3 separate regions of the Homo sapiens genome follow, and regions 1 and 3 are each linked to region 2. The links come from fine-mapping of genetic effects on gene expression. A gene starts in region 2. Each other region holds a variant in brackets. All regions are shown on one strand. Distances are between the middles of the regions.

The links. PIP is the estimated chance that this variant, and not a neighbour inherited with it, causes the effect.
Region 1: its variant is fine-mapped to the expression of PODNL1 in left ventricle (GTEx, PIP above 0.99).
Region 3: its variant is fine-mapped to the expression of PODNL1 in testis (GTEx, PIP above 0.99).

The regions. Positions count from the first base shown.
Region 1 is chr19:13,974,094-13,979,093 of GRCh38, reverse strand. It overlaps RFX1 (regulatory factor X1), which reads left to right. Exons shown (of 21, transcript NM_002918.5): 8 at 1,008-1,102. Among named protein-coding and RNA genes, the nearest start is that of DCAF15, 24 kb to the right of the region's middle. The variant A/C (reference allele first, on the strand shown) is at 2,449.
Region 2 is chr19:13,933,714-13,944,941 of GRCh38, reverse strand. PODNL1 (podocan like 1) reads left to right here and starts at 6,525. Exons shown (of 10, transcript NM_001370095.3): 1 at 6,525-6,763; 2 at 6,936-7,157; 3 at 8,482-8,575; 4 at 8,898-8,962; 5 at 9,112-9,221; 6 at 10,532-10,688; 7 at 10,949-11,064. The coding sequence starts at 6,761. RefSeq lists an enhancer at 8,005-8,762.
Region 3 is chr19:13,890,054-13,901,281 of GRCh38, reverse strand. BRME1 (break repair meiotic recombinase recruitment factor 1) reads left to right here. Exons shown (of 9, transcript NM_001345843.2): 3 at 5,736-5,910; 4 at 8,059-8,140; 5 at 8,392-8,496; 6 at 10,820-11,228. Among named protein-coding and RNA genes, the nearest start is that of BRME1, 10 kb to the left of the region's middle. RefSeq lists an enhancer at 11,203-11,228. The variant T/C (reference allele first, on the strand shown) is at 6,477.

The sequences.
Region 1 (5,000 bases), 37 kb before region 2:
TGTTTGTCCTCCAGAGCTCAGGCAGTCAGTTTCCCGCTAGGAAGGCAGAGCAGCGAGATCCCCGGCCCACGCCGCCGCCGGAGCCGCCGCCCCGGCCGCCCGCGTGCAGCGGCGAGGCCCCGCAGCTAGGCAGCCCCGAGCCGCCGCCGCCCCATTACGAGCCGGGCGCCGAGCAGTGGGTGGAGCTGGTGGGCGTGCTGCCCCCACACCTGCTCCTGCCGCAGCAGAAAGTGGTCTTCGAGCCACTGTCCCGGCTCCCGGCCCGAGCCAGCCCCGACCAGAGGGTCAGGATCCAGAGAATCCCCCAGGTGCTAGTGTTCGGCACGGCCGCCACGGCCCTCAAAGTAGGTGGCGGACGCACGGGCGGGGGGCAGCGGGCGGGCGGGGGCGGGGGCGCCCAGTCTGGGCCGCCCACCAGGCCCCGCAAGCCCTGTAGACCCCACCTCCGCCCGACGGGTCGGTCTAGGGACCCGCCTCTGACTCCCCACCCAAGCCCCGTCCAGGTCCCAGCTCCGCCCCTGCAGACAAGGGTGGGGGATGGAGGTGGGGGACTCAGGCCCCGCCCCTAAGGCCCTGTCAGTGATTCCAGGTTCTGTCCCACCAACCGGGGCCCCAGGCTCCGCCCCTCACATCCTGTGCCCGGTTTCCAGGCCCCACCCCTGAGGCCCTTTCTGTAGCTCCATGGCTCCAGCGATAGCCTTGCCCCTGTGCCTGGGGTCCAACCTTCACGCCCACTACAGGACCCTGTCTCGGGTCCCCTCCACTGTCCGTCAGGCCCCACCCTTGCTGGCCCCAGCCGAAGCCGAGAGTCCTGGCTTCTCCTGACACAGCTCTTCCTGATTCCCAGCCCTGGCCTCCTCCAGGGTGTTTTGTTGAGAGTCCAGAAGCCACCCTTGGGTCCGGGAGCTGGGCGTCAGGGATAGCCTGGGTGGGCACCAGCCCTTTAGAGGGAGAACCGTAGGAGCTGGCCCACCCCTGACCCTCCACGTGCCCTTCCTCTGCCCCAGGTGCAGCAGCTCCAGCAGGTGCCCGTCCCACACGTGTACTCCAGCCAGGTGCAGTATGTGGAGGGCGGCGATGCCAGCTACACGGCCAGTGCCATGTAAGTGAAGGGAGAGGGGTGGGTGAGGGAGTCAGGTCTGCACTGGAGCCTCCCCAGTCTCCCAGGACACCAGTCCCCAGTCCCAGCCCCCAGCAGGCCATCCGGCCTTCAAGGCCTCAGGTGACAGACACACAGGTGGGCACTCCCCAGGGGCAGCCACAGCCACGAAAAGTGGCGAAGCAGAGGGACCCTTGAAGGTTGGGAAAGGCACCCCGGCATAGCTTAGGGCTTGGGAGTCAAATGAGCCTGGTTTTTAACCAAAAAAAAAAAAAAAAGGCCAGGCACGGTGGCTCACGCCTGTAATCCCAGCACTTTGGGAGGCCTAAGCGGGCAGATCACTTGAGGTCAGGAGTTCAAGACTAGCCTGGCCAACATGGTGAAACCCTGTCTCTACTAAAAATACAAAAGTTAGCCAGGAGTGGTGGCAGGCACCTGTAATTCCAGCTACTCGGGAGGCTGAGGCAGAAGAATTGATTGAACCCAGGAGGCGGAGGTTGCAGTGAGCTGAGATCGTGCCACTGTACTCTAGCCTGGGCAATAGAGTGACACTCCATCTCAAAAAAAAAAAATCATTTGACTCTCAACCCTGTCCCAGAGAGGATGCTGTGACCTGTTTCTTTGTTTCTTTCCAGAGATACTCTAAGAACAGAAACTCTAGCCCTCTATCCATTTTTTTCTTTTTTTTTGTTTTTTTTTTTGAGATGGAGTCTTGCTCTATCGCCAGGCTGGAGTGCAGTGGTGTGATCTCGGCTCACTGCAACCTCTGCCTCCTGTGTTCAAGTGATTCTCGTGTCTCAGCCTCCCGGGTAGCTGGGATTACAGGCACACACCACCACACCCAGCTAATTTTTGTGTTGTTAGTAGAGATGGGGTATCACCATGTTGGTCAGGCTGGTCTTCAATTCCTGACCTCGTGATCCACCCGTCTCAGCCTCCCAAAGTGCTGGGATTACAGGCATGAGCCACCGCACTGGACTTTTTTTTTCTGTTTTTTTTGAGACAGGGTCTCACTCTGTCGCCCAGGCCAGAGAGCAGTGGCGCGATCAGGGCTCACTGCAGCTCACGGGCTCAAGCAATCCTCTTACCTCAGCCTCCCTAGTAGCTGGGACTACAGGTGTGCACCACCATGCTCAGCTAATTTTTGTATTTTTGTAGAGATGGGGTTTTGCCACGTTGCCCAGGCTCATCTCCTCGAACTCTTGGACTTAAATGATCCTCCCGTCTTGGCCTCCGAAAGTGCTGGGATTACAGGCATGAGCCACAGTGCCCAGCCTCTACCCGCTTTCTGTGGTCAGAAATAGACGCAGGACATTCCATCCATACCTTATTTCTTTCCTGGCTCTTCT[A/C]CCATGTGTCCTCGTGGGTCCTGGTCACCCTCTTAGCTGCTGTGTAATAACCCCTGTGCAGATGCAGCAGCCACGATGTCATCAGTCCCCACCCAGTGATGCATAGGGGGCTTCTTCCCCTCCCTGGGTACAGCACTACCATTCCTGTGTATGGGCCGTGTCAGGCAGGGGCCACGTCCTGGCCCCGCTTCAGTCCCGGCTCGGGCTCCTCGCCGGGGGTCCTCCATGCCACCTTCCCTCTCCCATCTCCACAGAAATTGCTGCAGTACTAGAGTTACTGTTGGTTTAGTTTCCAGAGGTTTCACTTGGTTTTCTTTGCATTTGCATGATTTCTTTTTTCATCCCTGCCACTTGTTCTTCTGGGGACAATGCTGGGATTGGTTAGCTCATGGATCGACTTAGTCCTAGGGTCATGATGCTCTGACCGACCCCAGTGGGCCTGGTCCAGGCATCTAAATCGTGAGGCTTGGTCCCCGGCGTCCGGCTACCTCACAGTTCCATTTGTTTCTTTCCAGTGCTGCTAATCTTTTCACTGTGTGGTTGAGCCAAGCTGGCAGGGGCCAGACAGGGCATTGCAAAGAGGAACACGGTGTCCAAGGGTTCCTGCTGCCATCCCTGGTAGCGTCTCTCCTGTCTCTCCTTTGCTTCTGTCTGAATTCCTCTCTCAGTGATCATAGTGTGTGTGATTGCACCTAGTTCATCGTTGCTATCGGGTTTTTCTGCTACGAGAAGTTGTTGGGGGCCACTCCTGCTGTCAGCTGCCCACCCCTTCTGTCTCTCCCTCTGAGTGAATTACTGCGAGTTCCCGACCCTTTGCCAGCCCTATCCCCACCCTGGCCAAAGCCACAGCCCCTGGGCCTCCATCCCTGGTCCTGTTCTGGGGGGCATCCAGAGCTGCACACATTCATTTATTCAGTCATTCAGCAACCATCTACCAAAGCAACCTTTTTGCAGCACACATTGCATGCTGGGTGTGCAGGAGTGAGCAGGCTGTGGCCCCCGCCTTGGAGAAGTAGGGGCTCTTGCTCAGGTCATGTGCTCTTGGTGTCACTTTGTGTGGTAGACATAGGGCAGGACAGAGAGATCGAGAGCTGGACCTGATGTGTGACAAAGACCATGCTTCCATATCTCCTTCCACTGTCCCCCTCAACTCCCTCTCTTTGTTCACCCACAACCACTCGGGCCTGTGCGGCTCCCTCCCCTGCCACCTTCAGAGTCTGAGCCAGGCCACCTCTTGACTGACCACACTGTCTTTCTGGATGTTTAATTTTTTTTTTTTTTTTTGAGATAGAGTTTCCCTCTTGTTGCACAGCTGGAGTGCAATGGTGCAATCTTGGCTCACTGCAACCTCCACCTTCAGGGTGGTTCTCCTGCGATTCTCCTGCCTCAGTCTCCCGAGTAGTTGGGATTACAGGCGCCCACCACCACACCCGGCTAACTTTTTGTATTTTCAGTAGAGAGAGGGTTTCATCATGTTGGCCAGGCTGGTCTTGAACTCCTGACCTCAGGTGATCCACCCGCCTTGGCCTCCCAGAGTGCTGGGGTTACAGGTGTGAGCCACCGTGCCTGCCCCTGCCCCCCTCCCTTTTTTTTTTTTTTTTTGAGGTGGAGTTTCACTCTGTCACCCAGGCTGGAGTGCAGTGGCATGATCTCAGCTCACTACAGCCTCCACCTCCCAGGTTCAAGTGATCCTCCTGCCCCAGCCTCCTGAGTAGCTGGGACTACAGGCGCCTGCCACCATGCCTGGCTAATTTTTGTATTTTTAGTAGAGACGGTTTCACTATGTTGGCCAGGCTGGTCTCGAACTCCTGACCTCAAGTGATCCACCCGCCTCGTCCTCCCAAAGTGCTGGGATTACAGGTGTGATTACACTGCACCTGGCCTAATGCTATGTTTTTAATCACTAGTACATTGAAAGAGTTCAAAGATCAAAACTATGTCCAACGATGTTTAGCGAGATGGTGAGAGGTGCCCCCTGCCTGTCCCCCTCGACGGAGCCCTCCATGCCCACAGATGACAGACACGCATGCCACATGCAACGCATTCTTCCCTATTGTTCGGTCACACGGTCCCCACTCTTCTCTGCCTCTTATCTGCCCGGTGTTAGGTTCTGGAGCTTGTTCTTTCGGGGGACGACAAGCCTTGCCTCCTTCTCTTTCACCCCTGCATAGGATTCCATCATCTTTTGTTTAACAGCCCCTTGAGGTTGAACCCCTGGTGGTTTTTATACTTGTATACTTGTGACGATTTGCAGCCTCAAGCCTGTGTCACCGGTGCCCATCCCGTCACGCGATATCTGAAGGAGAGAGGCTTCCCCAGCCTGGGATAGGTAGCTTGGCTCAGGGGAAACATATCTGCATTCCTGATGGTCTTCTCCAATCACAGCGTCGCCTTCTCTAGTCCCTTCCAATCACAGCATCGCCTTCTCTAGCCCCACCCCCTTCCTGCTTCACTCACTGCCTGATCACCTTCTGTTATGATCTCTCATTTACCTTTGCACGTGGCTTCTTGCCTGTCTCCCCAACTAGACGGTTCCGGGGGCCGGGGCTTTT
Region 2 (11,228 bases):
TAGCCAAGCATGGTGGTGTACACCTGTAGTCTTAGCTACTGGGAAGACTGAGACAGAAGAATTGCTTGAACCCAGGAGGCAGAGGTCGCAGTGAGCCGAGATCGTGCCACTGGACTCCAGCCTGGGTGACAGAGTGAGACTCCCTCTCAAAAAAACCCCAAAACAAACAAAAAAAAAACCCCAAACAGGCCAGGAGTAGTGGCTCACATCTGTAATCCAGTACTTTGGAAGGCCAAGGCGGGCGGATCATTGAGGTCAGGAGTTTGAAACCAGCCTGGCCAACTTGGCAAAACCTGTCTCTATTAAAAATACAAAAATTAGCCAGGCATCATGGCCTGCACCTGTAGTCCCAGCTACTCGGGAGGCTGAGACACGAGAATCGCTTGAACCCAGGGATCGGAGGCTGCAGTAAGCAAAGATCCCGCCACTGCACTCCAGCCTGGGCAACAGAGAGACTTTGTCTCAAAATAAACAAATAGGGCCAGGTGTGGTGGCTCACGCCTGTAATCCCAGCACTTTGGGAGGCCAAGGCAGGCAGATCATGAGGTCAGGAGATCAAGACCATCCTGGCTAACACGGTGAAACCCTGTCTCTACTAAAAATACAAAAAAATTTAGCCAGGCATGGTGGCGGGTGCCTGTAGTCCCAGCTACCCGGGAGGCTGAGGCAGGAGAAGGTGTGAACCCGGGAGGCGGAGCTTGCAGTGAGCCGCCGAGATTGCGCCACTGCACTCCAGCCTGGGTGACAGAGCGAGACTCTGTCAAAAAAATTAATTAATTAATTAATTTAATAAATAAAACAAAACAAAAACAGATGTACAAGGATATCCAGTGGCAAGCCTCTCTTTGCCCCCAGCCACAAGCATTCAGGTCTCCCCCCAGAGCTAGCCAATATGTATGTTTTAATATATGGAAATGATCTACATTGTTAGCATCATTCTGCAATTTTTTTTCCCACAAGATTATCTCTACCCAGGTAAATCCATGTCGTGGTTTGAATGGTGTCCCTCAAATAGATAGGTAGATGTCCTGTCTCCCCGATGCCGTGAATGTGACCTGATTTGGAAAACAGGTCTTTGCGATGTAATTCAGTTAAGGATCTTGAGATGAGATTATCCCAGATTAACTGAGTGGACCCTGAATCCAAAGACCAGTGTCTTTATAAAAGACAGGAGAGGAGAGGCTGGGCGCGGTGGCTCACGCCTGTAATCCCAGCACTTTGGGAGGCTGAGGCAGGTGGATCATGAGGTCAGGAGATCGAAACCATCCTGGCTAACATGATGAAACACCGTCTCTACTAAAAACACAAAAAAATTAGCCGGGCGTGGTGGCATGCACCTTTAGTCCCAGCTAATTGGGAGGCTGAGGCAGGAGAATGGCCTGAACCCAGGAGGCAGAGCTTGCAGTGAATCAAGATCACACCACTGCACTCCAGCCTGAGCAACAGAGCGAGACTCCATCTCAAAAATAAATAAATAAAGACAGGAGAGGAGAAACAGGCTCAGTGAAGAAGGCCACGTGGAAACTGAGGCAGAGATTAGGGTGATGCAGCCACAAGCCAGGAAACACCAAGTTGCCTGGAACCACTTCCAGCCTCCAGAACTGTGAATGCATTCCTTTTCTTTCTTTCTTTTTTCTTCTTTTTTTTTTTGGAGTTTCACTCTCGTTGCCCAGGCTGGAGTGCAATGGCGCGATCTCAGCTCACCACAACTTCTGCCTCCCAGGTTCAAGTGATTCTTCTGCCTCAGCCTCCTGAGTAGCTGGGATTACAGGCATGTGCCACCATGCCTGGCTAATTTTGTATTTTTAGTAGAGACGGGGTTTATCCATGTTTGTCAGGCTGGTCTCAAACTCCCGACCTCAGGTGATCCGCCTGCCTCAGCCTCCCAAAGTGCTGGGATTACAGCATGAGACACCGTGCCTGGCCCTTTCTGTCTTTTTTTAGAGAGAGTCTTGCTCTGTCACCCAGGCTGGAGTGCAGTGGTGTGATCGCGGCTCACTGCAACCTGTGCCTCCTGAGCTCAAGCGATTCTCCTGCCTCAGCCTCCTGAGTAGCTGGGATTACAGGTGTGCACCACCATACACAGCTAATTTTTTTTGTTGTTTTTTTTTGTATTTTTTAGTAGACATGGGGTTTCACCATGTTGGCCAGGCTGGTCTCAAACTCCCAACCTCACATGATCTGCCCGTCTCTGCCTCCCAAAGTGCTGGGATTACAGGTGTGAGCCACAGGGGCGCACAGCCAATCCTATGTGCATTCTGTAAATATTTACTAAATACTGATTATACCAGGCTCCATGCTGGACACTGGGGCCACATTGATGGACCATACTCCATTGTTATCCCTGCAGAGGCCCCTGCTGGGTAATGCAGAACTGGGCAGGACCAGGCAGGACTGGACAGGACAGTGTGGCAGAAGGGGAGTTTGTTGCAGGAAGATAAGGCCAGTGGGTTATTTACAGGAACAATGGTTAGGTTCCTAGCCAATCAGCACATTCCATCCCTCTGGCCCCAGGGATTGGCTCTGGATGGACATGTGACCAAATTTAGGCCAATGAGATTTAAGTCTGAGGCTTTCTACTAAAGCCAGGGAAGAATGCTTATTGGTTCTGGGAATGTCTTAGCACCACATACAGAAGCCTGCAAGTAGAGTTCAGAGTTCAAGAGAGAATTCATCTAGAAGAGATCACTGGAGCCCCTGGATCCAGCTGTGCCTGAAGGATACAGGTTTTCTGTTCATGAGCCAGTAAATGCCCTTGTTTGTATTAGCTAGTTCAGTTTGGGTTCTCCTTCCTTTGCAATGGAAAGAGGCTTGCCCGGAACTCAAACATCTTGGTTCTTATTGCTGCTTCCCTGGGGGCTAGGACTGCTACAGTAGTCCTGTCTCCCTAGGGTTAGCCCCATTACACTGCTGAAGAGACTGAGGAACTTCCACCCAATGTCCAAGCTAATGGCCATCCATCCCATGGGGAGTACTTGAGATAGGAGCTGTTGTTCTCTTCTGGCCTAAACTAAGACCCGTCTCCTGTCTCACCCCATGAAGAGAGACCCTCAGGAGGTCACACAGCCCTAGGAAACATGAACAGATAACCACCTCTCTTGGCCCATGTTTCTTAACTTTTTTTTCTTTGAGATGGAGTCTTGCACTGTCGCCCAGGCTGGAGTGCAGTGATGCAATCTCGGCTCACTGCAACCTCCACCTCCCAGGTTCAAGAAATTCTCCTGCCTCAGCCTCCCAAGTAGCTGGGATTATAGGTGCCTGCCACCATGCCTGGCTAATTTTTTTGTATTTTTAGTAGAGACGGGGTTTCACCTTGTTGGCCAGGATGGTCTCGAACTCCTGACCTTAGGTGATCTGCCCACCTCAGCCTCCCAAAGTGCTGGAATTACAGGCGTGGGCCACTGCGCCCAGCCACTGTTTCTTGATCACTTCCTCCCTCCCCTGTATCACTGCCTGCCTTCTCTGGAATAAATGCACTCAATCCTTGTCTCAAGCTCTGCTTCTGGGAGACTCCAACTCCTGGCCTTGGCCACTCCCAAGCTGAGCAGACGCTATACTTTTTTTTTTTTTTTTTTTTTGAGACGGAGTCTCACTGTTACCCAGCCTGGAGTGCAGTGGTGTGATCTCGGCTCACTGCAGCCTCCAGCTCTCAGGTTCAAGCAATTCTCCTGCATTAGCCTCCTGAGTAGCTGGGATTACAGGCATGCACCACCGTGCCCAGGAAATTTTTGTATTTTTAGTAGAGACTGGGTTTCACCATGTTGGCCAGGTTGGTTTCAAACTCCTGACCTCAGGTGATCCACCTGCCTTGGCCTCCCAAAGTGCTGGGATTACAGGTGTGAGCCACCGTCCTTGGCCGACACTATACTTTTATTTTTATTTATTCATTCATTTTTGAGACAGGGTCTCACTCTGTCATCCAGGCTGGTGTACAGTAGCATGAACACGGCTCACTGCAGCTTCAACCTCCTGGGTTCATGTGATCCTCCCACTTCAGCCTCCCTGGTAGCTGGGACTACAGGCAACACCACCATGCCCCGCTAAGTTTTGTTTTGTTTGAGACAGAGTCTCGCACCATAGCCCAGACTGGAGTGCAGTAGCACAATCTCTGCTCACTGCAACCTCTGCCTCCCAAGTTCAAGCCATTTTCCTGCCTCAGCCTCCCAAGTAGCTGGGATTACAGGCACATGCCACCACACCCAGCTAATTTTTGTATTTTTTAGTAGAGACAGGGTTTCGCCATGTTGGCCAGGCTGGTCTCGAACTCCTGACCTCAGCTGATCTGCCCACCTCGGCCTCCCAAAGTGCTGGGATTACAGGTGTGAGCTACCGCGCCTGGCCCCCGCTAAGTTTTTTTTTTTTTTTTTTTTTGAGACGGAGTCTTGCTCTGTCACCCAGGCTGGAGTACAGTGGCGTGATCTCGGCTCACTGCAACCTCCGCCTCCCTGGTTCTAGTGATTCTCCTGCCTCAGGCTCCTGAGTAGCTGGGACTACAGGCGCGCACCACCACACCCAGCTAATTTTTTGTATTTTTAGTAGAGATGGGGTTTCACAGTGTTAGCCAGGATGGTCTCGATCTCTTGACCTTGTGATCCACCTGCCTCGGCCTCCCAAAGTGCTGGGATTACAGGTGTGAGCCACCGCGCCTGGCCCCCCACAAAGTTTTTAAAAAATTTTTTTAGAGACGGGGGTCTCACCATTATTGACCAGGCTGGTCTCAAACTCCTGGGCTTAGAGCCATCCTCCTGCCTCAGCCTCCAAAAGTGTTGGGATTACAGGCATGAGCCACCACACCCAGCCACCATTCTTAAAATGTTCTACCCACTGCCTCGTTCTGCTTCAAGACAGCTCTTTGAGGGGGGGGGTTTGTCATCCCCCCACTTTTTTTTTCTTTATTTAATAACAGGGTTTTATTCTGTTGCCCAGAGTGGCGTGCAGTGGCACATAGCTCATTGTAACCTCAAACTTGAGCCCAGAGGCTCAAGTGTTCCTCCTGCCTTGGCCTCCTGAGTACCTGGGACTGTGGGTGTGCACCACCATACCAGGTTAGTTATTATTATTATTATTATTATTGAAACAGAGTTTTGCTCTGTTGCCCAGGCTGGAGTGCAGTGATGTGATCTCCACTTCCCAGGTTCAAGCGATTCTCGTGCCTCAGCCTCTGGAGTAGCTGGGATTACAGGCACGTGCCATCATGCCCAGCTAATTTTTGTATTTTTAGTAGACAGGATTTCACCATGTTGGGCTCGATGCTCTGGAACTCCTGACCTCAGGTGATCCGCCTGCCTAAGCCTCCCAAAGTGCTGGGATTACAGGTGTGAGCCATGGAGCCCAGCCCAGGCTAATTTTTTTTTAAATTTATTTTTAGAGACAGGGTCTCACTATATTGCCCAGTCTGGTCTCAAATTCCTGGCCTCAAGAGATCCTTCTAGCCAGATGTGGTGGCTCATGCCTGTAATCCGAGCACTTTGGGAGGCCAAGGTGGGCAAATCACCTGAGGTCAGGAGTTCGAGACCAGCCTGGCCAACTTGGCGAAACCCTGTCTGTACTAAAAATACAAAAATTAGCTGGGCATGGTGGGAGGCGCCTGTAATCCCAGCTACTTGGGAGGCTGAGGCGGGAGAATCACTTGAACCCCGGAGGTGGAGGTTGCAGTGAGCCGAGATCACGCCACTGCCCTCCAGCCTAGGCGACAGAGTGACAGAGTGAGACTCTGTCTCAAAAAACAAAAGAGAGATCCTCCTGTCTCAGCTTCCCAAAGCACTGGGATTACAGGTATAAACCCCAGCACCCAGCCTGTCAATCCCATTTTATGTGTGGGAAAGCTGAGGTCTGGGCAGGAGAAGGACCTGTCTGAAGCCGCCCTGTTGGTAAGTTGTGGGTCTGGGAGAATTGACCTCATGTGGAGACCAGCTTGTCACCCCCATCCACGGGTGCCAAAGCCCTGGGATATGCCAGGCACTGTTCTGAATGCACACTTCGTATAATCCTTACAACACTGTGGGGGAGTGTGGGGTGGTGAGCCAACCATTACCCCAGAAAGGGAAACCAAGGCCCTGAGAGGTGGCACAGCCCAGGTTCAAACCCAGGCAGGCTGGCACCAAGCTCACACTCTTAACCACCAGGCTGATGCCTGGATATATGTAATTTCCTTCCAGGCGGCTGTGGCCATTTGCGGGGGGAGGAGGGGGCGGGTGTCTGGAGCAAGACCAGCCAGCAGAGGGGAGGTGGGTGCCGGGCAGCAGACCTGGTCAGGAGCTCCCAGGCTGGCATCTGGGCTGCCAGGCTAAGCTCAGGCCTCCCTAATCCCTCGCTGCTGCCCGCCCCTGCTTCTCGGAACTCTCCTGTGCCCCGAAGCTCCCCCCATCCCTCCATCCCCACCCCTACTCCTGCGGTCGTCCCAAATACCAGACAGGACGAATCTCAGCTTTTCCCCAAACATTCCTTGTTCTTGTGGCCCGGCCCAGGCTGGCTGAGGTTACGAAAGCAGAGATGGGGTGGTTGTTGGGGGGGACCAAGGGGACGGGCTGGCCTGTCCTCACCACCCCATCCGGCCGCCTGCCCGTCCTCCCCAGGGCGGGGAAGGGGGTGGGCCAGCTCCCCCAAAGCCCCGGGAGAACAGGCTGTTGTGGGGGGTGGCATGGGTCTGGAGATGGGGGGCGGTGGTGGCCACAGCAGAGGCTCCAGGAGGTGACCGCCTGGTTTCCATTAGGAAGTCCTGGTCAGCAGCTTGGGCGAGATGGCAGAGTCAGGGCTGGCCATGGTAAGGTGGGGCACGGGAGGGTCTGAGGGTGGGGCCTGCCTGCCCCCCCACCCCTGCTCTGCCAACTGGCCACTGCCTCCCCACCAAGACCCTCCCCGAGGAGGGGATGCTCCAGTCACCATGGCGACCCTGCGCCCAGCCTGGAGACACGCTGACCCTCCCTCCCCCGCAGTGGCCGAGCCTGCTGCTGCTCCTGCTGTTGCCGGGGCCCCCGCCCGTCGCCGGCTTGGAAGACGCTGCCTTCCCCCACCTGGGGGAGAGCTTGCAGCCCCTGCCCCGGGCCTGTCCCCTGCGCTGCTCCTGCCCCCGAGTCGACACTGTGGACTGTGATGGCTTGGACCTTCGAGTGTTCCCGGACAACATCACCAGAGCCGCTCAGCACCTCTCCCTGCAGGTGGGGCCCACGGAGGGGAGTGGGGGCATGCAGGGCTGAGACCCAGTGGTGAGGGGAGCTGGAGGGGTGCCCCAGAGCTGAGGAGCGTGGTGGGGTATAGGAACACACTTGCAGGAGGGCGGTGCAGAGCAGGCTGTGATGGAGCTTTGCCTTGGCAGATTGGCTCTGCATGCCCAAGATGAGAGGGGTGAGCGTGGACATGCTGGAAGTTGTCGGGGACTGAGGATTAGTGGTGTTAGGGTCAACATCTTGGCGGTTATAGTGTTGTTTGGAGTTAGTGTGATGGGGAGTTTGGGGTTATGGGGATGTTGTGGCGTGTGGGGTTGATGGTGGGGGTGATGGCACATTTGGGGTCGATTGTGGGGGTGATGGCGCATTTGGGGTCAATTGTGGGGGTGATGTCGCATTGTGGTCGATTGTGGGGGTGATGGCGCATTTGGGGTCGATTGCGGGGGTGATGGCGCATTTGGGGTCGATTGCGGGGGTGTTGGGGCATGTGGGGTTGATTGCGGGGGTGATGGCACATTTGGGGTCGATTGCGGGGGTGTTGGGGCATGTGGGGTTGATTGCGGGGGTGATGGCACATTTGGGGTCGATTGCGGGGGTGTTGGGGCATGTGGGGTTGATTGCGGGGGTGATGGCACATTTGGGGTCGATTGCGGGGGTGTTGTGGCATGTGGGGTTGATTGCGGGGGTGATGGCGCATTTGGGGTCGATTGTGGGGGTGTTGTGGCATGTGGGGTTGATTGCGGGGGTGATGGCGCATTTGGGGTCGATTGTGGGGGTGTTGTGGCATGTGGGGTTGATTGCGGGGGTGATGGCGCATTTGGGGTCGATTGTGGGGGTGTTGTGGCATGTGGGGTTGATTGCGGGGGTGATGGCGCATTTGGGGTCGATTGTGGGGGTGTTGGGGCATTTGGGGTCGATTGTGGGGGTGATGGTGCATTTGGGGGTGATTGTGGGGGTGATGGCACATTTGGGGTTGATTGTGGGGGTGTTGAGGAATTTGGGGTCGATTGTGGGGGTGATGGTGCATTTGGGGTCGGTTGTGGGGGTGATGGCACATTTGGGTTGATTGTGGGGGTGTTGGGGGAATTGGGGTCGATTGTGGGGGTGATGGCACATTTGGGGTCGATTGTGGGGGTTTGGGGTTTGACATCTTGGCAGTTATAAGACTGGGTCAGAGTGATGGGGTGTTTGGGATTAACTGTGGGGGTGATGATGGTATGGGGCTGGTTTGGGCTGATGGGAAGTTGAGAATCAGTGCTTGGGGTCACTTGGTCACGGGGTCACGGGTGTGAACACCCCAACTCTCACCCTGCAGAACAACCAGCTCCAGGAACTCCCCTACAATGAGCTGTCCCGCCTCAGTGGCCTGCGAACCCTCAACCTCCACAACAACCTCATCTCCTCCGAAGGTGAGGGGGCAGAGGGAGGCGGCCTCTCTGGGGCTGTAGGACTGACCGAGGTCTCAGCTGCCATCCCCCTCCCCCGCCCCATCTGCGGGCAGCTCTGTGGCAGTTCCCAGAACTGCCCTTTGCTGAGCAGGATGGAAACTCAGGAGCTGGGGTGGGGGTTGGGGGCTGTGGCTTTTGAGTAGGGATGGGGAGGAGGGGATCTGAGGGCCTGGGGAGCCTCTGCCAGTTCCCCGGCCGAGAGTCCTGGGGCAGCTGGGAGCCCAGACTCCCCCTCCACCCAAGACAGGCCTGGGGTCCCTTCACTGCCCCCCTACTCTCCCAGGCCTGCCTGACGAGGCCTTCGAGTCCCTCACCCAGCTGCAGCACCTCTGCGTGGCTCACAACAAGGTGAGCCCCCAGCCCCACCCGCAGGCCGAGCCCAGTGAGGGTGCAGCTTCAGTCACTCAGCCCAGGGTGTGGAGGGGACAGCTCTGCTGGGGAAGTGGTGGGGCCAAGGCGCACCAGGACCAGTCCGGCTGTGGGCTGTGTCCCCACAGCTCTCAGTGGCCCCTCAGTTTCTGCCCCGGTCCCTCCGTGTCGCGGATCTGGCTGCCAACCAAGTGATGGAGATCTTCCCCCTCACCTTTGGGGAGAAGCCGGCACTCAGGTAGACCCTGGCCCAGCCCAGGCCCCCAGGCCTCAGATACATCTGTGTCATGCCCCGGTTCTAGGAGCAATGAGGGAGTTAAGACCTTGCCCTCGGCCGGGTGCAGTGGCTCACTCCTGTAATCCTAGCACTTTGGGAGGCCAAGGTGGGAGGATCATCTGGGGTCAGGAGTTCGAGACCAGCCTGGCCAACATGATGAAACCCTGTCTCTACTTAAAATACAAAAATTAGCTGGGGGTGGTGGTGTGCGCCTGTAATCCCCGCCACTCAGGAGGCTGAGGCAGGAGACTGGCTTGAACCCAGGAGGTGGAGTTTGCAGTGAGACGAAATCGTGCCACCGCACTCAAGCCTGGGCGACAGAGTGAGACTCTGTCTCAAAATTAAAAACAAAAACAGAAACAAAATGCCTTGCCCTGGAGGGCTTAACCAGGGACAGATCCCTAGCCTTGGGGAGTGGGAAGAGGGCATAGTTCTACCCTGGGAGGAGAGTGAGCGGGGAGACAGGGCCCTGTATGCTGTGTCAGAACTCCAGACTGAGGTGGAGACAGTATGTGCAGGGACACACACACACACACACTTACACAGACTCACATACACACCTGCACACACAACCACATGAACACATGCTCATGCACACACAATCACATGCACACACAAGCACACACACAGACTCACATACACACCTGCACACACTTCCAACCACATGCACACAGGCACACACTCATGCATGCACACGCAATCACATGCACACACAAGCACACACATGCACATATGTACACAATGCTCACACTTTTGCACATGATCACATGCACACATGGACATACATGCATACACACAGTTGCACACTCGGCTGCACACACACAATCACATGCACACTTATGCACAGGCATGCACACATGCACACCCACACTTACAATCACATGCACACACTCACCCATGCACACTTATGCACAGGCACATAGCACACACTTGCATATACATACACACATGCACGCCCACACACTCTTACAATCACATACACACGTGCACACACACTCCACATATGCACTCATTACACTTACACATGCACACTGCTCACACATGCACACACGTCTATTCATACAACACACATGCACACTCACCTGCACACCTACGCACAGTCACATGCACACATACACAATTACATTCCCACACAGACTCCACACATGCGCGCGCACACACACACACACACACACACACACACTGAAGGCGACCCTGAGCAGGGTGTGGTGCGGGAGTGGGGTGGTAGGAGGCGAGGGGCAGGCTGGTGGCCGGAGCCTGGCTCTCCTCAGGTCCGTGTACCTCCACAACAACCAGCTGAGCAACGCTGGCCTGCCCCCCGACGCCTTCCGCGGCTCCGAGGCCATCGCCACCCTCAGCCTCTCCAACAACCAGCTCAGCTACCTGCCGCCCAGCCTGCCGCCCTCACTCGAGCGGCTCCACCTGCAGGTAGCCCTGCTGTAGGTCCCACCCCGGGCCAGACTCTCTTCACCTCTTTCCAGGGGGACCCCTCCAGTTCCTAGCTTTCCATTCTTCTCAATTGCCCCTCAGAATGCCAGTGGTCAGAGTTATCCTTCTTTGAATCACTTTATTGGAAATCGCTTTGAGCTCAAGGCAAGCTCCTCGTCACTCCCTTACTCAAGAGCCGTCTGTGGCTTCCCGCTGCCCTCATCCCAGACTCAAGTCTCATTCTCTTCTTCCTTCTCCAGAACAATCTCATCTCCAAGGTGCCCCGAGGAGCCCTGAGCCGCCAGACTCAACTCCGTGAGCTCTACCTCCAGCACAACCAGCTGACAGACAGTGGCCTGGATGCCACCACCTTCAGGTACAGGCTGGTTGGGGGGCAGCAGGGGCTGAGAATTTACAGTCGGGGGTCCCAACCTTCAGTCCCCCTTCCCTGACTGGCTCCTAAGCCACGGCCTCATTTACTGAGTGCCTGCTGCTCACTGGGCTCGGCAGAGCACTGGGTAGGTGTCCCTGTTCCCCACA
Region 3 (11,228 bases), 44 kb after region 2:
AAAATAGCCAGGCTTGGTGGTACGCACCTGTACTCCAGGCTACTTGGGAGGCCGAGGTGAAAGGATTGCCTGAGACCAGGAGTTCATGACCAGCCTGAGCAACATAATGTTACCCAGTCTCTAAAAAAAAAAAAAAATTTTAATTAACCAGTGTGGTGGTGCCTACCTGTAGTCCTGGCTACTTGGGAGATTGAGGCAGGAGGATGGCTTGAGCTGAGGAGTTCCAGGCTGCAGTGAGCTATGATTGCGCCTGCACTCCAGCCTGGGCCACAGAACAAAACCCTGTCTCTTAGAAAAAAAGAAAGATTGTTGGGCACGATGGCTCATGCCTGTAATCTGAGCACTTTGGGAGGCCGAGGCAGGTGGATGGATCATTTGAGGTCAGGGTTCGAGACCAACCTGGTCAACATGGTGAAACCCCATCTGTACTAAAAACACAAAAATTAGCCGGGCATGGTGGCATGTGTCTGTAATCCCAGCTACTTGGGAGGCTGAGACACGAGACTCGCTTGAGCCCAGGAGAGCTGAGATTGCACCACTGCACTCCAGCCTGGGCGACAGAGTGAGACTCTGTCTAAAAAAAAAAAGGAACAAACCAAGTCAGAAAGACAAACTCCCAATATGATGTAGTAGAGTTCCATTTGCCTATCATTTTCTAAAGTAAGTTAAATTTCTTCAAAATTTTGAAATGACTTTTTAATTTAGTGGCTGATGAATTTAGGGAATGGTGTGCATGTTTTTTCCCCCAAGATATGGGACAGGAGAGGAAATGATCAGCAGATTGAACATGTTTTGTGCAGAGATGAGCAACAGGCTGCTTGGAGGCATCAGAATTTCTCTGACCTTGGAGGGGGAAGCTGGGGACAGCCAGGTCCACCCACAGCAGGTCACTTGGGGCCTCTGTTGGCGGTAGACTCCCCAGCTCAGTGGACCTCTGGGCTGGCCCTGGACAACCCTTTCTGTGTGTGCTGGAAGGGTGGAGAGAGAGGAAGAAAATTCTGGCAGGTGGTGAAAGAGGCCTTTTCCCTCCCAATGTCTTTAGTCTTTGGTGTCGAACACAAGGTTCTGCCTTATTTTTTCTTAAATTAGTCCCATGTGGACAGATCACAGGAAGGAAAGAGAAGACTCTTCAATGCCATTGATATTTTTTTGCTTTTTATTTGGTACAAATGGCCATTCAGTCAGCCAAGTGAGCAAGTGTTTGAGAATCTCAAGAAACCAAATAAACAAAGCAGCTATATTTTGTCTTTTCTGGCAGACCACAAGGTCGTGTTTCTTTTGAGACAGAGTCTTGCTCTGTCACCCAGGCTGGAGTGCAGTGGTGCAGTCTTGGCTTACTGCAACCTCCGCCGCCTGGGTTCAAGTGATTCTCCTGCCTCAGCCTCCTGATTAGCTGGGACTACAGGTGCCCACCACCACACCTGGCTAATTTTTTGTATTTGTAGTAGAGACAGGGTTTCACCATGTTGGCCAGGCTGGTCTTGAACTCCTGACCTCAAGCAATCTGCCCACCTCACCCTCTCAACGTGGTGAGATTACAGGCATGAGCCACTGCACCCGGACGGTTAGGAATGTGTTTCTATAAGCAATGTCCATCGGAGCTTTACTTGTGGTGGTACATCCTTTGAGGTGGGCACCTGATGGGGCAGGGCAGGGCGAAGGGGAGATCAAAGGGTGCATTGCACTCAGTTCCTGCCCTGGAGATCCTCCAGCTGTAGTCAGAGGACAAAGGAAAATGCTTCTCTCAGCGAGAGCTAAGCAAATACACAGCAGTGGGATAAAGTTCTAAACGGGCACTCCCGAACTGTAACTGACAGAATTACAAGCAACTTACCGTGCGCCATGGCTCACACCTGCATTCCCAGCACTTTGGGAGGCCAAGGCAGACAGATCACTTGAGATCAGGAGTTCAAAACCAGTGTGGCCAACGTGGTGAAAACCCGTCTCTACTGAAAATACAAAAAAATTAACCAGGCATGGTGGCTTGCACCTGTAGTCGCAGCCAATCAGGAGGCTGAGGCAGGAGAATTGCTTGAACCCAGGAGGCAGAGGTTACAGTGAGCTGAGATCATGCCACTGTACTCTAGCCTGGGCAACAGAGCGAGAGTCCATCTCAAAAAAAAAAAAAAAGAAGAAGAAGAAGAATTAGAAGCAATTACAGGAAGATTGCTGTGGTTTAGTGGAGGGCAAACAGCTGAATGGGGACTGATGCAGACCCTAGCAATTGGCGTCGAGGAAAGAGAGACTCATTCAGTAGGTTTACTTCACGATGTGTAAGTGTGTAATGTAGAGCTGAGGTTGGAAAGAGTCCATCTGGGGTTTGGATAGTGTTATTCTTTTTTTTTTTTTTTTTTTTTTGAGATGGAGTTTCACTCTTGTTGCCCAGGCTGGAGTGCAATGACGCGATATCGGCTCACTGCAACCTCCGCCTCCCGGGTTCAAGCGATTCTCCTGCCTCAGCCTCCTGAGTAGCTGAGATTACAGGCATGAGCCACCATGCCCGGCTAATTTTGTATTTTTAGTAGAGACAGGGTTTCTCCATGTTGGTCAGGCTGGTCTTAAACTCCCGACCTCAGGGGATCCGCCCGCCTCAGCCTCCCAAAGTGCTGGGATTACAGGCATGAACCACTGCGCCTGGTCCTGGATAGTGTTATTCTTTAGTGTTTTTTTTAGAGATAGGATCTAGCTCTGTTGCTGAGGCCAGAGTGCAGTGGCACAATCACGGCTTGCTGCAGCTTCAACCTCCAGGGCTCAAGCAATCCTCCTGCCTCAGCCTCCTGAGTAGCTGAGACTACAGGTGCATGCCACCACCCTCAGCTAATTTTTAAATGTTTTATAGAGGTGGGATCTCACTGTGTTACCCAAGTGAGATCCTGGACTCAAGTGATCCTACCCCCTCAGCCTCCTGAGTAGCTGGGACTGCAGGTGTGCACCACCACACCTGGCTGTTGGTTTGTCTTTTTGTTCTGCCTGCCTTGGCAGAAATCTACTACATAGTAGGCATTCAGTAAATGCTCAAGTATTCTTAAGTGTGCTGGTTCTGGAGTTGGACGGGGTGCCAGCCTTGGTTCCTGGGCCTCTGTGTGCCTTAACGTTTTCACCTCTCTGGGAACTTGGGGCCCTTGGGTGTCAATTCTCGCATCTTTCCTTTCCTTTTAATTTAATTTAATTATTTATTTTTTTGAGATGGAATCTCACTCCCTTGCCCAGGCTGGAGTGCAGTGGCGCCATCTTGGCTCATTGCAACCTCAGCCCCCCGGATTCAAGCGATTCTCCTGCCTCAGCCTCCCAAGTAGCTGGGATTACAGGTGCCCACCACCATGCCCAGCTAACTTTTGCATTTTTAGTAGAGATGGGGTTTTGCCATATTGCCCTTTTATTTATTTATTTTAATTTAAATGTTTAATTTAAATGTTTTTTTGAGACAGGCTCTAGTTCTGTTGCCCAGGCTGGAGTGCAGTGGCACAGTCTGGACTCATTGCAATCTCTTCCTCTGGGCTCAAGTCATCCTCCCCCTTCAGCCTCCCAAGTATGTGGGACTGCAGGCATGCACCACCATGTTTGGCTAATTTTCGTACTTTTTAGACAGGGTTTCGCCATGTTGCCCAGGCTGGTCTTGAACTGCTGAGCTTAAGCAATCCACCTGCCTCGGCCTCCCAAAGTCCTGGGATTACAGGCTGGCATCTTTCCTTGCTGGTGGCAAAGGCCAATATTTTAATCATGGACAAAGATAATATTGAATTGCTCAAGGTACTTCTGTAAGGCAGGCATAACAGCAGCACCCTGCCTTGAGCTTTTATCTTAACACACACAAGTTCTTAGGACAGCATCTGGTGTGGAACTCACTAGAGTCAACCCTTATCATTTGTTCACTGAATGCATGATTAGGTTGGGGCCAGGCTTGGGGAAGTCTTACAAGCCAGCCACTATTGAAAGTTTTGATGTGGCTGGGCACGGTGGCTCATGTCTGTAATCCCAGCACTTTGGGAGGCCGAGGCGGGCGGATCATGAGGTCAAGAGATCGAGACCATCCTGGCCAACATGGTGAAACCCTGTCTCTACTAAAAATACAAAAATTAGCTGGGTGTGGTGGTGCGTGCCTGTGGTCTCAGCTACTCAGGAGGCTGAGGCAGGAGAATCACTTGAACCCGGGAGGCAGAGGTTGCGGTGAGCAGAGATCGTGCCATTGCACTCCAGCCTGGTGACAGAGCGAGACTCTGTCTCAAAAAAAAAAAAAAAAAGTTTCGATGTAAGGGAGTTTTCTTAATTCAAAAGATAGATTCTGGCGAGGCAAAGTGGTTCATGCCTGTAATTCCAGCACTTTGGGAGGCCGAGACAAGAGGATCACTTGAGCGCCAGAGTTCACGACCAGCCTGGGCAACATATGAGACCCTGTCTCAACAAAACAAAAGCAAAAGAAAACTTAGCCAGGCATGGTGGCACACACCTTTTGTCCCAGCTACTTGAGTGGCCTGAGGTGGGAGGATGGCTTGAGCCTATGAGGTCAAGACTGCAGTGATCCACAGTTGCACCACCTCACTCTAGCCTGGGAGACAAAGCCAGACCCTGTCTTAAAAAAAGAAAAAATATATATATAGTATATATAATACATAAATACATATATGTAAATACGTATGTATAAATACATATGTATGTATAAATACATATGTATAAATATATATATTTACATATTTGGCTGAGGCTGAATCCTGAGGTGGCGTGGCCTGGCTTTAGATCACATGGAACAACCTGGCAATATAATGGGATATATAATATATATAGTATATATTTAATAAATATATATCATATATAAATATATAATATAATACAAGGATATAATGTTTATAATATATTAATATATCATAAATATATAATTTAAATAATATATTTTATAATTATAAATATGCAATATGTAAATACATTATAATTATATATTTTATATGTATGTATATATTAAATATGAATATGTATGTATTTTATATATGATATATAATATATATTAATTTTTTTTTGAGACAGAGTCTCGCTCTGTCAACCAGGCTGGAGTGCAGTAGCGCAATCTCAGCTCACTGCAACTTCCGCCTACCAGGTTCAAGCGATTCTCCTGCCTCAGCCTCCCAAGTAGCTGGGACTATAGGTGGGTGCCACCATGCCCGGCTAATTTTTGTATTTTCAGTAGAGACGGGGTTTTGCCATGTTGGCCAGGCTGGTCTTGAACTCCTGACCTTAGGTGATCCACCCGCCTCGGCCTCCCAAAGTGCTGGGATTATAGGCGTGAGCCACTGCGCTATATATACAAAGATGTCAATAAGCATCTTTAGCCTCTTAAATGCCAGAAGAAGACACATCGCAATTGCTTTCAGTGATGGGGAAGTTAGTGCAGAAATGCAAGGGGCCAGGACGTGGCCAAAGCATCACCTCTTCAGCACCCGGTGGCTGTGAGTCCCAGTTTTCCCAGGATGGCTATTTTGCAGATGTCTCAGCACATTAGAATGGTACATAATTTAGTCTTGTCTGCCCTTGGTGGTGTGCATTTATCCAGTCATGGATAATTTATTTATTGAGCACCAACAGTGTACAAGATGCTCTTACAGGCACTTGGGACCCCGCAGAGAGTGAAATGGATTCGGCCCCTTCTCGCGTGCAGCCTGGTTGTAGTGGGGGAGACCTGAGTTGTCAGCCATGAGCAGTGGCTGTATCCCCCACCCCTTCATCTTCCTCTGTCTCTAAAACAGGAGAGGGACTCTGTCCTCCAAAACCCCTAAAGAACCCAAGGCTAGGAGACTTCTATGGGGACCCCCAGAGTTCCATGTTGGGCTGTTTACATCACCCTGAGGAGCCAGAGGGCAAATTGGGACCTGTTCCCTCTACACAGCAGCACGGGGAGGAACCAGGAAAGGCCGTCTCCAGGTAGGTGGCTCTGAACATTCCGGCAGGTCTCCCCACTGACAGTCCACATAGCACAGCAGCTCAGCAGACAGCAATGCTTTGGGAAAGAGACCCACAACCTATCTAGTGCTGTGACCCACTCCCTCCCAGAGCTCAGGGCCCTCGGATCTCGCTTCTCCTAGCTTTCCTCGCTGGTAAGAAGGGTTGATGTTTTAGCCGGGCATGGTGGCTAATGCCTGTAATCCCAACACTTTGGGAGGCCGAGGGGGGAAGATCACTTGAGGTCACGAGTTTGAGACAAGACTGGCCAACACTGCAAAACCCCGTCTCTACTAAAAATACAAAAATTAGCTGGGTGTGGTGGCGCACCTGTAATCCCAGATACTCAGGAGGCTAAGGCAGGAGAATCGACTGAACCCAGGAGGCAGAGGTTGCAGTAAGCTGAGATCATGCCACTACGCTCCAGCCTGGGCAACAGCGAGACTCCATCTAAAAAAAGAAAAAAAAGTTTTAACTGTGGGCAAAGATAACATTGCATTTTTCAGGGTTACAGAACTCATATTCTGTCTGCTGGTCAAACCCATCCT[T/C]CTTCCACATTCCTCCTCTTCCTTAATCAAGAAGGGAACAAAGGAATTGTTGTTATGTGAGCTAACGACCAATAAAAAAAGAAAAGCAATCAGGGCTGAGTGCAGTGGCTCATGCCTATAATCCCAGCACACTGGGAGGCTGAGGCAAGAGGATCGCTTGAGCCCAGGAGTTCAAGAGGAGCCTGTGTAACATAACAAGGATGACCCCATATCTACAAGAAATAAAATAATTAGCCAAAACAAAACGATATACATATCCTTATTTATTTATTTATTTATTTGAGACAGGGTCTTTCTCTGTCACCCAGGCTGGAGTGCAGTGGCACAATCTCGGCTCACTGCAACCTCCACCTCCCGGGTTCAAGCGATTCTCCTGCCTCAGCCTCCTGAGTAGCTGGGATGAAAGGCGCCCGCCACCACACCCAACTAATTTTTGTATTTTTAGTAGAGACGGGGTTTCACCATGTTGGCCAGGCTGGTCTCGAACTCCTGACTTAAGGTGATCCGCCCGCCTCGGCCTCCCAAAGTGCTGGGATTACAGGCGTGAGCCACCACGCCTGGCCCTTATTTATTTAAATATAACCCTAAGTTTCACTAGTTTTTAAAGACACTATGTTTCTTGCATCCACAATTTCCTTTCCCTAGAATGTGCCGTGTCAGGGCTGGAGTGTCCGTCCAAATGAGAATATCCCTATTCCCAGTTCAGAAGGCAATTCCTGGGATTATAAATGTAACAAAGTCACCTGTTAAGGCAGTGTATTCTCCAGGTGGGACTCTGCACCCTCCTTGACAGTTAAATGTTCTCAGGTCACTGCTTCTCCATCCCCATCCCACTCTTTCAAAGCAGGTTTTCCAGGGCCTTCCATCTAGCAGACATTTTTTTTTTTTTGAGATAGGGTCTTGCTCTGTCACCCAGGCTGGAGTGCAGTGGCGTGATCATAGCTCATTGCAGCCTGAACTCCCCTGGCTCAGATGATCGTGACATTTCAGCCTCTCAAGTAGCTGGGGCCACAGGCACACATCACCACGTCCAGCTAATTTTTAAATTTTTTGTAGAAAAGGGGTCTCACTATGTTGCTCAGGCTGGTCTCAAACTCCTGGGCATCCACCCACCTCAGCTTCCCACAGTGCTGGGATTAAAGGGATGAGCCACCACGCCCAGCCTAGGAGACTCTTAGCACTGGTTTCCTGTTGGATTTTGTTTTGCGTTTGTCTCGATAGGTGAGTGACAACCTAGGAGGATTTCAGATCCCCCTCGTTTGTTTGTTTTTGACACAGAACCTTGTTCTCTCACCTAGGCTGGAATGCAGTAGCACAATCTTGGCTCACTGCAAACACCATCTCCTGAGTTCAAGCCATTCTGCCTCAGCCTCCCAAGTAGCTGGGATTACAGGCGTGCGCCACCACATCCAGCTAATTTTTGTATTTTTAGTAGAGATACGGTTTCACCATGTTCCCCAGGTTGGTCTCGAACTCCTGGCCTCGGTGATCTGCCCGCCTCAGCCGCCCAAAGTGCTGCAATTACAGGTGTGAGCCACCGCACCCGGGCAGATCTCCTTCAGTTTTATCTTTTCCTACATAGCTCCCCTGATGAGGAAACAGGATCTCCCTGCCGGCTCCTCCGTCAACCAGAAAAGGAGCCAGCTCCCCTTCCTCCTTCCCAGGTGAGCTCGTCCTGTGGCCTCGTGGATATAGAAGCACCACTGCCTCCCTTAAAGTTCCGGCTCTGTGTCTCCCTTCTTTGTCACCAATTGCTCACTCATGGTCTACAGGGGCTGGAGGGAATGTGCCCAGAGGGCAAGGGTGGAGTTCTCTCAAGGCTACAAGAAAGGAGCAGGTTTGGGGTTGCTTTTTTCCTAAGACCTCATTCCTCTCTTATCTTTATTGCTGCTTTGTTCTTGTATCCGGTTTACAGAACTCATTCGGGAGGTTTGTTCCCCAGTTTGCAAAATCCAGGAAGACAGTGACAAGAAAAGAAGAGATGAAGGATGAGGACCGTGGGAGTGGGGCCTTTAGCCTGGTAAGGCTCTAAAATCAGCCAGGCTGAGCCCAGCGCAGGTGCAGCCTCCTGGCCCAGCCTCGGCAGCCCCATTTAACCCTGGAGTTCTTTGGCAATGGTGAGGCCTGCACCTCTCCACCCACCGTTTTCAGTACATTGCGCTATGGATGTGTGTTGACTATGCAACAATTCTTTATTTTATTTTTTTTCTTTTTTTTGAGACAGAGTTTCACTCTTGTCACCCAGGCTGGAGTGCGATGGTGCCATCTTGGCACACTGCAACCTCTGCCCCACTGGGTTCAAGCAATTCTCCCGCCTCAGCCTCCCAAGTAGCTGGGATAACAGACGCCTGCCCACCGCGCCCAGCTAATTTTTGTATTTTTAGTAGAGACGGGGTTTTACCATGTTGGCCAGCCTGGTCTTGAACTCCTGACCTCAGGTGATCTGCCCGCCTCAGCCACCCAAAGTGCTGGGATTACAGGCATGAGCCACTGCGCACGGCCTTAGCACAATTTTTAAAAAAACACAAAATGGTACAGAGTGAATTTCCGGTGTTCTCTGTTTTAGCTTCACCGAGTGGTAACACCATGCATAACTATAGTCCATCACCAAAACTAGGCAATTGGCCAGGTGCAGTGGCTCATGCCTATGATCCCAACACTTTGGGAGACTTCCCTTGACCAGCCTGGGCAACATGGCAAGACTCTGTCTCTACAATAATTTTTTTTTTTTTTTGAGATGGAGTCTTGCTTATCGCCCAGGTTGGAGTGCAGTGGTGTGATCTCGGCTCACTGCAGCCTCCACCTCCTGGGTTCAAGTGATTTTCCTGCCTCAGCCTCCCCAGTAGCTGGGACTACAGGTGCACACCACCACACCTGGCTTATTTTTGTATTTTTATTAGAATAGGGGTTTCACCCTGTTGGCCAGGCTGGTCTCGAACTCCCAACTTCAAATGATCCGCCTGCCTCGGCCTCTCAAAGTGCTGGGATTACAGGCATGAGCCACTGCGTCCAGGCTACAATAATTGTTTTAAAACTTGGCCAGGTGCAGTGGCTCCCACCTGTAATCCCAGCACTTTGGGAGGCCGAGGCAGGAGGATCACTTGAGCCCAGGCATTCAAGACCAGCCTGGGCAACATGGCACAACGCCATCTCTACCAAAAAAACCACAAAATTTAGCCAGTTGTGGTGTGTACCTGTAGTCCCAGCTACTTAGGAGGCTGAGGTGGGAGGGTCGTCTGAATCTAGGAAGGTCAAAACTACAGTGAGCCGTGATCACACCACTGCACTCCAGCCTGGACGAAAGAGTGAGACCCTGTCTCAAAATTATGAAAAATAAATAATAAAAATAATAATAGCCGCTGGGCGCAGTGGCTCATGCCTTTAATCCCAGCACTTTGGGAGGCCGAGATGGGCAGATCACCTGAGGTCTGTAGTTTGAGACCAGCCTGGTCAACATGGAGAAACTCTGTCTCTACTAAGTATACAAAATTAGCCGGGCATGGTGGCGCGAGCCTGTAATCCCAGCTACTCGGGAGGCTGAGGCAGGAGAATTGCGTGAACCCGGGAGGTGGGGGTTGCAGTGAGCCAAGATCGCACCATTGCACTCCAGCCTGGGCAACAAGAGTGAAACTCTGTCTAATAATAATAATAATAATAATAATAATAATAAACAGGAAATTGACATTGGTGTGGTCTGAATGCCACCTTGATTTTCATATCCCTGATCTGATTGAGTACCTGGTGCTGGTGGAGAGAAGAGCTTGGTGGAAGGAGAGGTTTCTGTGCTTCCAGATCCCCCTCCAGTCGCCGGCCCTGGTACTGATGCCTATTTCCATGCATGATGGCCGGTGCCAATATCTGAGTCTTTGAACAGGGTGGTGACAACTATTAGATTGGTGCAAAAGTAAGTGCAGTTTTTGCCACTAATTTTTTTGTGTGTATGAGACAGAGTCTTACTCTGTCGTCCAGGCTGGAGTGCAGTCCTATCTCGGCTCACTGCAACCTCCGCCTCCCGGGTTCAAACAATTCTCCTGCCTCAGCCTCCTGAGTAGTTGGGACTACAGTCAACTGCCACCATGCCTGGCTAATTTTTGTATTTGTTGAGTAGAGATGGGGTTTCACCATTTTGGCCAGGCTGATCTTGAACTCCTGACCTCAAGTGATCCGCCCACCTCGGCCTCCCAAAGTGCTGGGATTACAGGCATGAGCCATCACGCCTGGCCAATTTTTGCCATTAAAAGTAATGACAAAACCCGCAATTACTTTTACACCAACCTAATAGAAAACTCTTCGGAGAACTTGGTTATCAAAGGCCCCGGGGCTGAGTCTTTTTCTGTCCACAGGAAACAATCGCAGAGTCCAGCGCCCAGAGTCCAGGATGCCAGCTGCTAGTGGAGACCCTGGGGGTCCCCCTCCAGGAGGCCACGGAGCTGGGGGACCCAACGCAGGCAGACAGTGCCCGCCCTGAGCAGAGCAGCCAGAGCCCTGTGCAGGCGGTGCCCGGCAGTGGGGATTCTCAGCCTGATGACCCTCCAGACAGGGGGACGGGGTTGTCCGCCTCACAGAGGGCCAGCCAAGACCACCTGTCAGAACAAGGGGCCGATGACAGCAAGCCTGAGACAGACAGGGTTCCAGGTGACGGTGGCCAAAAGGAACACCTACCAAGCATTGATTCTGAAGGGGAGAAGCCAGACAGAGGAGCCCCCCAGGAGGGAGGGGCCCAAAGGACAGCAGGGGCTGGCCTGCCTGGAG